2 linked regions of the Homo sapiens genome follow. The protein of the gene in region 1 purifies or fractionates together with the protein of each later gene. This does not show direct contact. Each region holds a gene or a part of one and is shown on either strand. Other genes may lie near its edges. The genes, in order: SMPD3 and BRI3BP.

Region 1 (3,819 bases):
AAAGAGGTTAAACCAGTCACAATTTGGCAACTAACACTCCCCCATGGTGTAGAGGCTCAGAGTGAGTGTGAGCATTGTCAGGTAAAATCACAAATCTTTCTATTGGGGGGCTCCCTCCTACCTTCAGAGTGTTGAGTTGATGTTCTTGTCTGAAGTTCTTTCAAGCTAGTTCAAGCCATGGAATTGCTGCTGTCTTCACCTCTATGGAAATGTTTAAAGAGGGCTTGAAGGTCTTTGTTCAAGTTTCTGACCAGTGGAAGGTGGGCATCAAACCCATTTATAAGGACAATGCATGGAAAACACTTATCAAGGCCAAAGAGATTTAGGCATCTCCTGTCTCTACCTCTACCTCTACTACTCTTTTCTCCTCTTTCCCTGTTCCACATTTATCCTCTTCTTTCTGTCATTATTAAATTAGTCAATAACATTTTTCAAAGGCAAGCCCTCTTTTCCTCAAAAACAATGTAGCCCAGAAAATGAAGGCTTCTGGAGGCTATTACCAAATGCAAAAAGCTGCAAATACGGCTTTCCAGGCCTAATGACAGAAGTGGGGGAGAGAGATAAGACATGCTCAGTCCTAAATACCCATCTGGTGACATGTGTCTCTTCTCCTGGAGTTACTCTGAAGGAATTTCTTGCAGTCACAAAATCCTAAGAGCTCTGCAGCTCTGCAAAGGAAAGAAGGTATTTTAATACCTGGTATTGTTCTTACTTTGGCATCCATGTGATTTGCATTGAACTATGTGACTCAGTATCATAAAGTAAAAATAGGACTTAATCTCTTCCTTGCCTGTTTGGAAGGTGACTGCATATGGTGTGTTGTATTCTGCATTGGAGAGTGAAAAGCTAAATTGCCTCATAAATTGAACCACCTGCTTATCCTGATTAGAATGGTGCTTAACATCACCTACAGGCAATAACGTTATTTTATGTTTCTTTTAATTTATACCTGTATCTTTGTCTTGTAAAACATTTCCTCATGCTCATACATTATTACTTTCACTTGAAGTTAATCAAGAATGTTTAATCCTTGTACTGAAGCCAAACAAATTAAATATCAGCAGATTCAGGAAGATGTGGGTGGTGTTTCTGTTCTTTTTGGGCTCAAAAAAAATTCTTGGAGTTCATAGAAAAGAAGGAAAAGGCCCTAAGATTTGGTAAATCTTGTGAGCAGTTCTGAGAGGCTCCTTAGAAATTTCCAGAAGGGCTGGTCATGTTGAAGAATCTGAACACGCATGCAAGTGGCAGCATGCATGCTGGAAATGAGACTGCAGCCCTGGTATTCCTAAATCACTGCACTAATGCAGCTTTTCTCGGAAAATTTCCCAAGACCCTCCTGCTCCCTGGGGCAGCCAGCTGGATCACTGTGGAGGAGAGCTGTCCAAGGTTCTGGAGTGCTGGCCTCACCCACCTGGTGGGAAGGGAGGACTTCTGGGTGTGGACCAGAAGCAAGAGCTGAGGGCCATGGCCTCCAAGAGGATTTCCCCAAAGCTGATTACAGAATGGAATAGGAGGAAACAGAGCTGTGGTGGATATTACTGCATTACTTCGAACAAACTCATCAGCAATCCCTGTTTAAAGAATTATGAGCTAATAAGAGGAAACATTTTCTGACTCAGGCTCTTCACATGTAAGAATGTATTTAATCCTCACAGTCCTGTGAGGTAGGTGGTGGCATAATTCCCACTTTCAAGGTGAGGAAACCAAGCTTTGAGGGCTTTCCCAAGGTTACACAGAAGGGGAAGAATTTAGGTTCCATCCTGGATCTCAAACTCTGGAAGTTCCTCCTTACCACTGTTTTTTCCCTATTGCTATTACAGAAATAAAACTGAACTATTGGATTATTCTATGTAAGTTTATAATCAAATGCCAGAGGAATAGGATTGCGGACCCACTAGGATTTAGACACAAATCAGTCTTTCCAAGTTCAGCAAGGATAGTGCCACCTACTTTATATCTTATCCAGCTTTGTTAACTGAACTTGGTTACCAAAGAATGGGGAAAGGGTAGTATAATGACCTTCATGACCAGTAGCCCAGGGGTTTCTTTCCACTGTGGAAAATTTTCACAGGAAGCCAAGCGTAGATGGCAACAAAGTGTTGTCATTGTTTTTCGTTTTTAAGAAAGGAAGGAAAAAAAACATGAGGAAGCTGTTATTTGACAAAGAGTACACATACAGCCAAAGAAATAGAGCTTATCTTTATTTCCTAGCAGCCTATTCCAAAGCTGAAGACACTCAGATATTGTTAAGAGATTCCTTCCACCTATTTGCACTCTCAGATTTTCATAGCAAAGCCTCTAACACCTAAATAAAATTTTCACTGTGTGGGCCTCAGCCAATCTCAGGAAAGCATCACATTCCTGTCCTTATGCCACCCAACCAAAGCTCTACCTCCATATGTGGCTGCAAGACTCCAGAAGGTGGGCAGGTTTGGGGTTTGGTGAATTTCAGACCACAAGTCTTGTCCTCCTAAAGTGGCAGTTCCAACTGCTCCAATCTTGCAACACACACAGGGGCCGGTTTCTGAGAACTCCCCATTCGATTTGGATGTCTAAAGAGGGTAGAAAGGAATGAACTTATGTTTTTTCTCCTCTCCCTGGGCCTCAGTCTGTACAACACTCAGATAAGGGGTTAGACTTTTAAGAAAAATTCTTCATATCAAGCTGAGTCTCCATTCCATTTTGAGTGATTCCTTCCCCTTCCAAGCTGGGGCTTCGCAGAGCTCTGATGAAAGGAGCAAAGGCTGCTACTGCTTTTCCCGAGGGCGCTTGGAAGCCAAGGACCCGGCACCCCATCTGGGTCTGCTCTGACTCATATGACTGCAGACAGATTTGATTGTTTTCTTATTTAGAGTCATTAATTAACTCTCCTCAGCATCAGAACAGCGTGTAATAAGAAGGAGGCCATTTGTGGGGGTCTCTAGGCAGCCACACCTAGGGCTGAGTACCACCTCCTTTGCACACAGGATCAGGAAATGGTTTCTAATCCTGGCTATAACCCTTTAGAAAGCTTAGATTGTTAAGATTTTAGGCCAATATGAGAAAGTGCAATTAATTGCTAAGGCTGTTGTGATCATTCTGGCAAGAACTGGGAGGCCCAGGAGTCCCTCAAAGGAGGACTGGATTTCCATTCATTCAACAGACATTTCTTGTGCCTACAAAAATGTGTCAGCCACAGCGCTGGGCACGGGGAACACAACCACAATGTGGGATAAGTCCTTTCTTATAGAAATCTTGAACGGAACAAGGAAACAGACACAGAAACCCTGAAATAATGTGTGCTGTAAGCAGAAAGAGCTTTAGAAATGGAAAGGATATTAATAATCATAAACCATCATGTCTTTTTAACATGAGGAAAGACAGCGAGGGAAGTTGAGGGCTGCTCTGGCCACAGCCCTGGTTAGTGGTTCTAAGATGGGGCTTAGAACCCAGATTTTTTAATGCCTAAAGCATGTTCTTTCCACTGTCCTAAACTGTTGCTCTGTTCATTTAATTACCCAAAGGATACATTTCCGTTAACATAGGCTTCTTTGATCCAATACCAATGCAAAACCCAAATTTTAAGTTGAAATAGCCCAGGCACGGTTGCTCATGCCTATAATCCCAACACTTTGGGAGGCTGAGGCAGGAGGCTTGCTTGAGGCCAAGAGTTCAAGACTAGCCTGGGTAACATAGTGAGACCCCGTCTCTATAAAAAATAAAAACATTAGCTAGGCATGGTGGTGAATGCCTGTAGTCCCAACTACTTGGGAGGCTGAGATGGGAGGATTGCTCGAGCCCAAGAGTTCAAGGCTGCAATGAGCTATGATTGTACCACCA
Region 2 (3,819 bases), on another chromosome or scaffold:
TGTGGTAATTTTTCACAAGTGTGTATGTCAAAAGGTGTCAACCTGTACACTTTAAATACGCACAGTCTATTGAGGTGTAGTGCAATTACACCTCAAAAAAGCTGTTAAAATGTTGGTAGGGGAAAAAGGACTGGAAAGTGTCAAAGTTATTTTGCTCAAAATACTTTCTTGCAAACAGCAAAAAATGCAAACCTCTTTACAAAAAAAAAAAAAAAGCAAAAACAAAAGAACCCAACAGCTCAATAGAACGGCAAAAAAAAAAAAAAAAAAGAAAAACCAAAAGGCAGTTCCCAGAACATATCGATGGATTCTGAATAAATGAAAAGACCATCTGTCTCATACATAATAAAGCCAAAAAGTTTAATGAGGCTGGGTCGGGTGTCTCACACCTGTAATCCCAGCACTTTGGGAGGCCGAGGCGGGCGGATCACGAGGTCAGGAAATCGAGACCATCCTGGCGAACACAGTGAAACCCCGTCTCTACTAAAAACACACAAAAAAATTAGCTGGGCATGGTGGCAGGCGCCTGTAGTCCCAGCCACTTGGGAGGCTGAAGCAGAAGAATGGCATGAACCCAGGAGGTGGAGCTTGCAGTGAGCCGAAATTGCGCCACTGCACTCCAGCCTGGGCGACAGAGGGAGACTCCGTCTCAAGAAAAATAAATAAATAAATAAATAAAAATAAAAAATAAAAAACTTAGCAGGGCATGGCGGTGCAGACCTGTAATCCCAGCTACTTGAGAGGCTGATGCAGGAGGATCATTTGAGCCCGGGAGGTAGAGACTGCAGTGAGCCAAGATTGAGCTACTGCACTCCAGCCTGGGCGACAGAGGGAGACTCTGTTTCAGGGAAAAATAAAATAAAAATACAAAACAGTGCGCATAGTGCAAAATAAACAAAAACCAACAATAGGGAGCAGATCTATAGATCCATATATTTATACATGTTCAGAATATCTGGCTGCTTCGGGGAAGGGGGTGGTAGACGGGTCGGTAGTGGGAAGTGGAGTTAGTTTCTTAACCTTCAGAACTACATGAAATTGTATTCCATGCAACTACGACCAAGGAGCAAGGGAAAAAAGTACTAGTTTCTCGACCTGGCATTCAGGATGTTTCCACCACATCAGTCCAGCTATATTCTGCCTGAGAGGAATCATTTTCTCCACATACAGTAGGTGCTTGAAATTTTTCATTTGTTTGTTTTTTTTGGAGACAAAGAGTTTTGTGCTGTCCCTGAGGCTGGAGTACAGTGGTGTGATCACAGCTCACTGTAGTCTCAACCTCCCAGGATCAAGCGATCCTCCCTATGCAACCTCCCAAGTAGCTGGGACCACAGGTGTGCGCCACCATGCCTAGCCAAAGGTTTTGGTTTTTCGTAGAGATGGGGTCTCACTATGTTGCCCAGGCTGGTCTCAAACTCCTGGGCTCAAGCAATCCTCCCACCTAGGCCTCCCAAAGTGGTGGGATTACAGATGTGAGCCACTGCACCAGGCCAATTTTTTTAAAAAACTGTAGTCATATACACATAAAGTTGGCCATTTTAACCATTTTAAAGTGTACAATTCAGTGGCATGAGCACGTTCACAATATCATGCAACCATTATTATCTAGTTCCACAATCTGTCATCACCCCAAAAGGAAACCCTAGATCAATTAAGCAGTAATTCCCCCATTGCTCCCTCCCCCAGCCCCTGGCAACCACCCATCTGCTTTCTGTCTCTACGGATCTTCCTATTCCAGATATTTCATATGCTGTAAATGGAATCATATAATGTGTGCCCTTTCGTGACTGGCTTCTCTCATTTATTCAAGGTTCGTCCAAGTTGTAGCATATAGCAATACTTCATTCCTTTTTATGGCTGAATCATATTTCATTATACAGACACATCACATTTTATCCCTTCATCAGCTGATAAGACATTTGGGACATTTCCACTTTTTAGCTATTGTAAAAAGTGTTGCTATGAACACATGTGTATAAGTTGCTTAATAATTTTTTTTGAGACGGAGTCTCTGTTCCCCCGGCTTGAGTGCAGTGGGGCGACTCAACCTCACCGCAACGTCAGCCTCCCGGGCTCAATCTATTCTCCTGCCTCAGCCTCCCAAGTAGCTGGGATTACAGTCGTGCACCACCACGCCCAGCTAATTTTTTTTTTTTTTTTTTGAGACGGAGTTTCACTCGTTGCCCAGGCTGGCGCGCGCAACGGTGCAATCTTGGCTCACTGCAACGGCCGCCTCCCGGGTTCAAGCGATTCTCCTGCCTCAGGCTCCCAAGTAGCTGGGATTACAGGCATGCATCACCACGCCTGGCTAATTTTTTGTATTTGGTAGAGACAGGGTTTCACCATGTTGGTCAGGCTGGTCTTGAACTCCTGACCTCAGGTGATCCATCCACCTTGGCCTCCCAAAGTGCTAGGATTACAGGCGTGAGCCACCACACCTGGCCTAATTTTTGTATTTTTAGTAGAGACAGGGTTTCGCCATGTTGACCAGGCTGGTCTCGAGCTCCTGACTTCAGATGAGCTGCCCACCTTGGCCTCCCTAAGTGCTGGGATTACAGGTGTGAGCCACCATGCCAGGGCATCACTTAATAATTTTTAAAGGAATTAACAAGTCTATTACCTCCTACCAGACAAATTCCCTTCATATAGAAATATTCTACCATTTACTAAATGCTTATTCAGTCCCTGGCATTGTGCAGCCCAACCAATCTCCTTTAATTCCCCAATTTATCTCCTCTGAACAAATGGGACACAGATAAGTAAAGCAACTGGGTGGTGCACGGTGGTTCACGTCTGTAAATCCGGCACTTTGGGAGGCCGAGGCAGGCAGATCACCTGAAGTCATGAGATCGAGACCAGCCTGGCCAACACAGTGAAACCCTGTCTCTACTAAAAATACAAAAATTAGCTGGTCGTGGTGGCATCTGCCTGTAACCCCAGCTACTAGGGAGGCTGAAGCAGGAGAATTTCGTGAATCCGGGAGGCGGAGGTTGCAGTAAGCCGAGAGCTCGCCATTGCACTCCAGCCTGGGAGAAGAAGCGAGACTGCATCTCAAAAAAAAAAAAAAAAAAAGAGAAGTAAAGCAAAAAAAAAAGAGAAGTAAAGCAACTGGCTCAGGGTCACAGAGCGAGTGAGAAACAGCTAGGATTCAAACTCATGTCTGTTCCCATGCTCCAAACAGGATGGTCATAGGTGTATTTCAGACAAGTCCTAGATTAGAATATGGGAGGCCGGGCACGGTGGCTCAAGCCTCTAATCATAGCACTTTGGGAGGCTGAGGAGGGCGGATTACGAGGTCAGGAGTTCGAAACCAGCCTGGCCAACATGGTGAAACCCCATCTCTACTAAAAATACAAAAATTAGCCAGGCATGGTGGCACACACGCCTGTAATCCCAGCTACTCAGGGGGCTGAGGCAGGAGAATTGTTTGAACCTGGGCGGCAGAGGTTGCCATGAGCCAAGACTGAACCACTGCATTCCAGCCTGGGCGACAAAGCAATACTCCATCTCGGAAAAAAAAAAAAAAAAAGACTATGGGGTGTTTTTTTAAATACCATTAAACTTCACAAAGCAGGTTTGGCTCTAATTCGTAAACCCAGGCATGCTGAAAACTACAGTTGCTGGCAGACCCAGTTTTCCTTTATTTAAAATTCACAAAACAGGCTGGGCACGGTGGCTTACGCCTGTAATCCCAGCACTTTTGGAAGGCTGAGGTCGGCAGATCACTTGAGGTCAGGAGTTTGAGACCAGCCTGGCCAACATGATGAAACCTCATCTCTACCAAAAACATAAAAAATTAGCCGGATGTGGTGGTGCTCA

The links.
Region 2: the proteins of SMPD3 (region 1) and BRI3BP purify together in Homo sapiens (affinity purification with mass spectrometry; one large-scale study listed by BioGRID and IntAct). This does not show direct contact.

Annotation. Positions count from the first base shown.
Region 1 is NC_000016.10:68,441,820-68,445,638, reverse strand, and holds part of SMPD3 (sphingomyelin phosphodiesterase 3), read left to right. Parts: intron 1-3,819. UniProt on the Homo sapiens protein: Catalyzes the hydrolysis of sphingomyelin to form ceramide and phosphocholine. Ceramide mediates numerous cellular functions, such as apoptosis and growth arrest, and is capable of regulating these 2 cellular events independently.
Region 2 is NC_000012.12:124,996,468-125,000,286, reverse strand, and holds part of BRI3BP (BRI3-binding protein precursor), read right to left. Parts: intron 1-3,819. UniProt on the Homo sapiens protein: Involved in tumorigenesis and may function by stabilizing p53/TP53.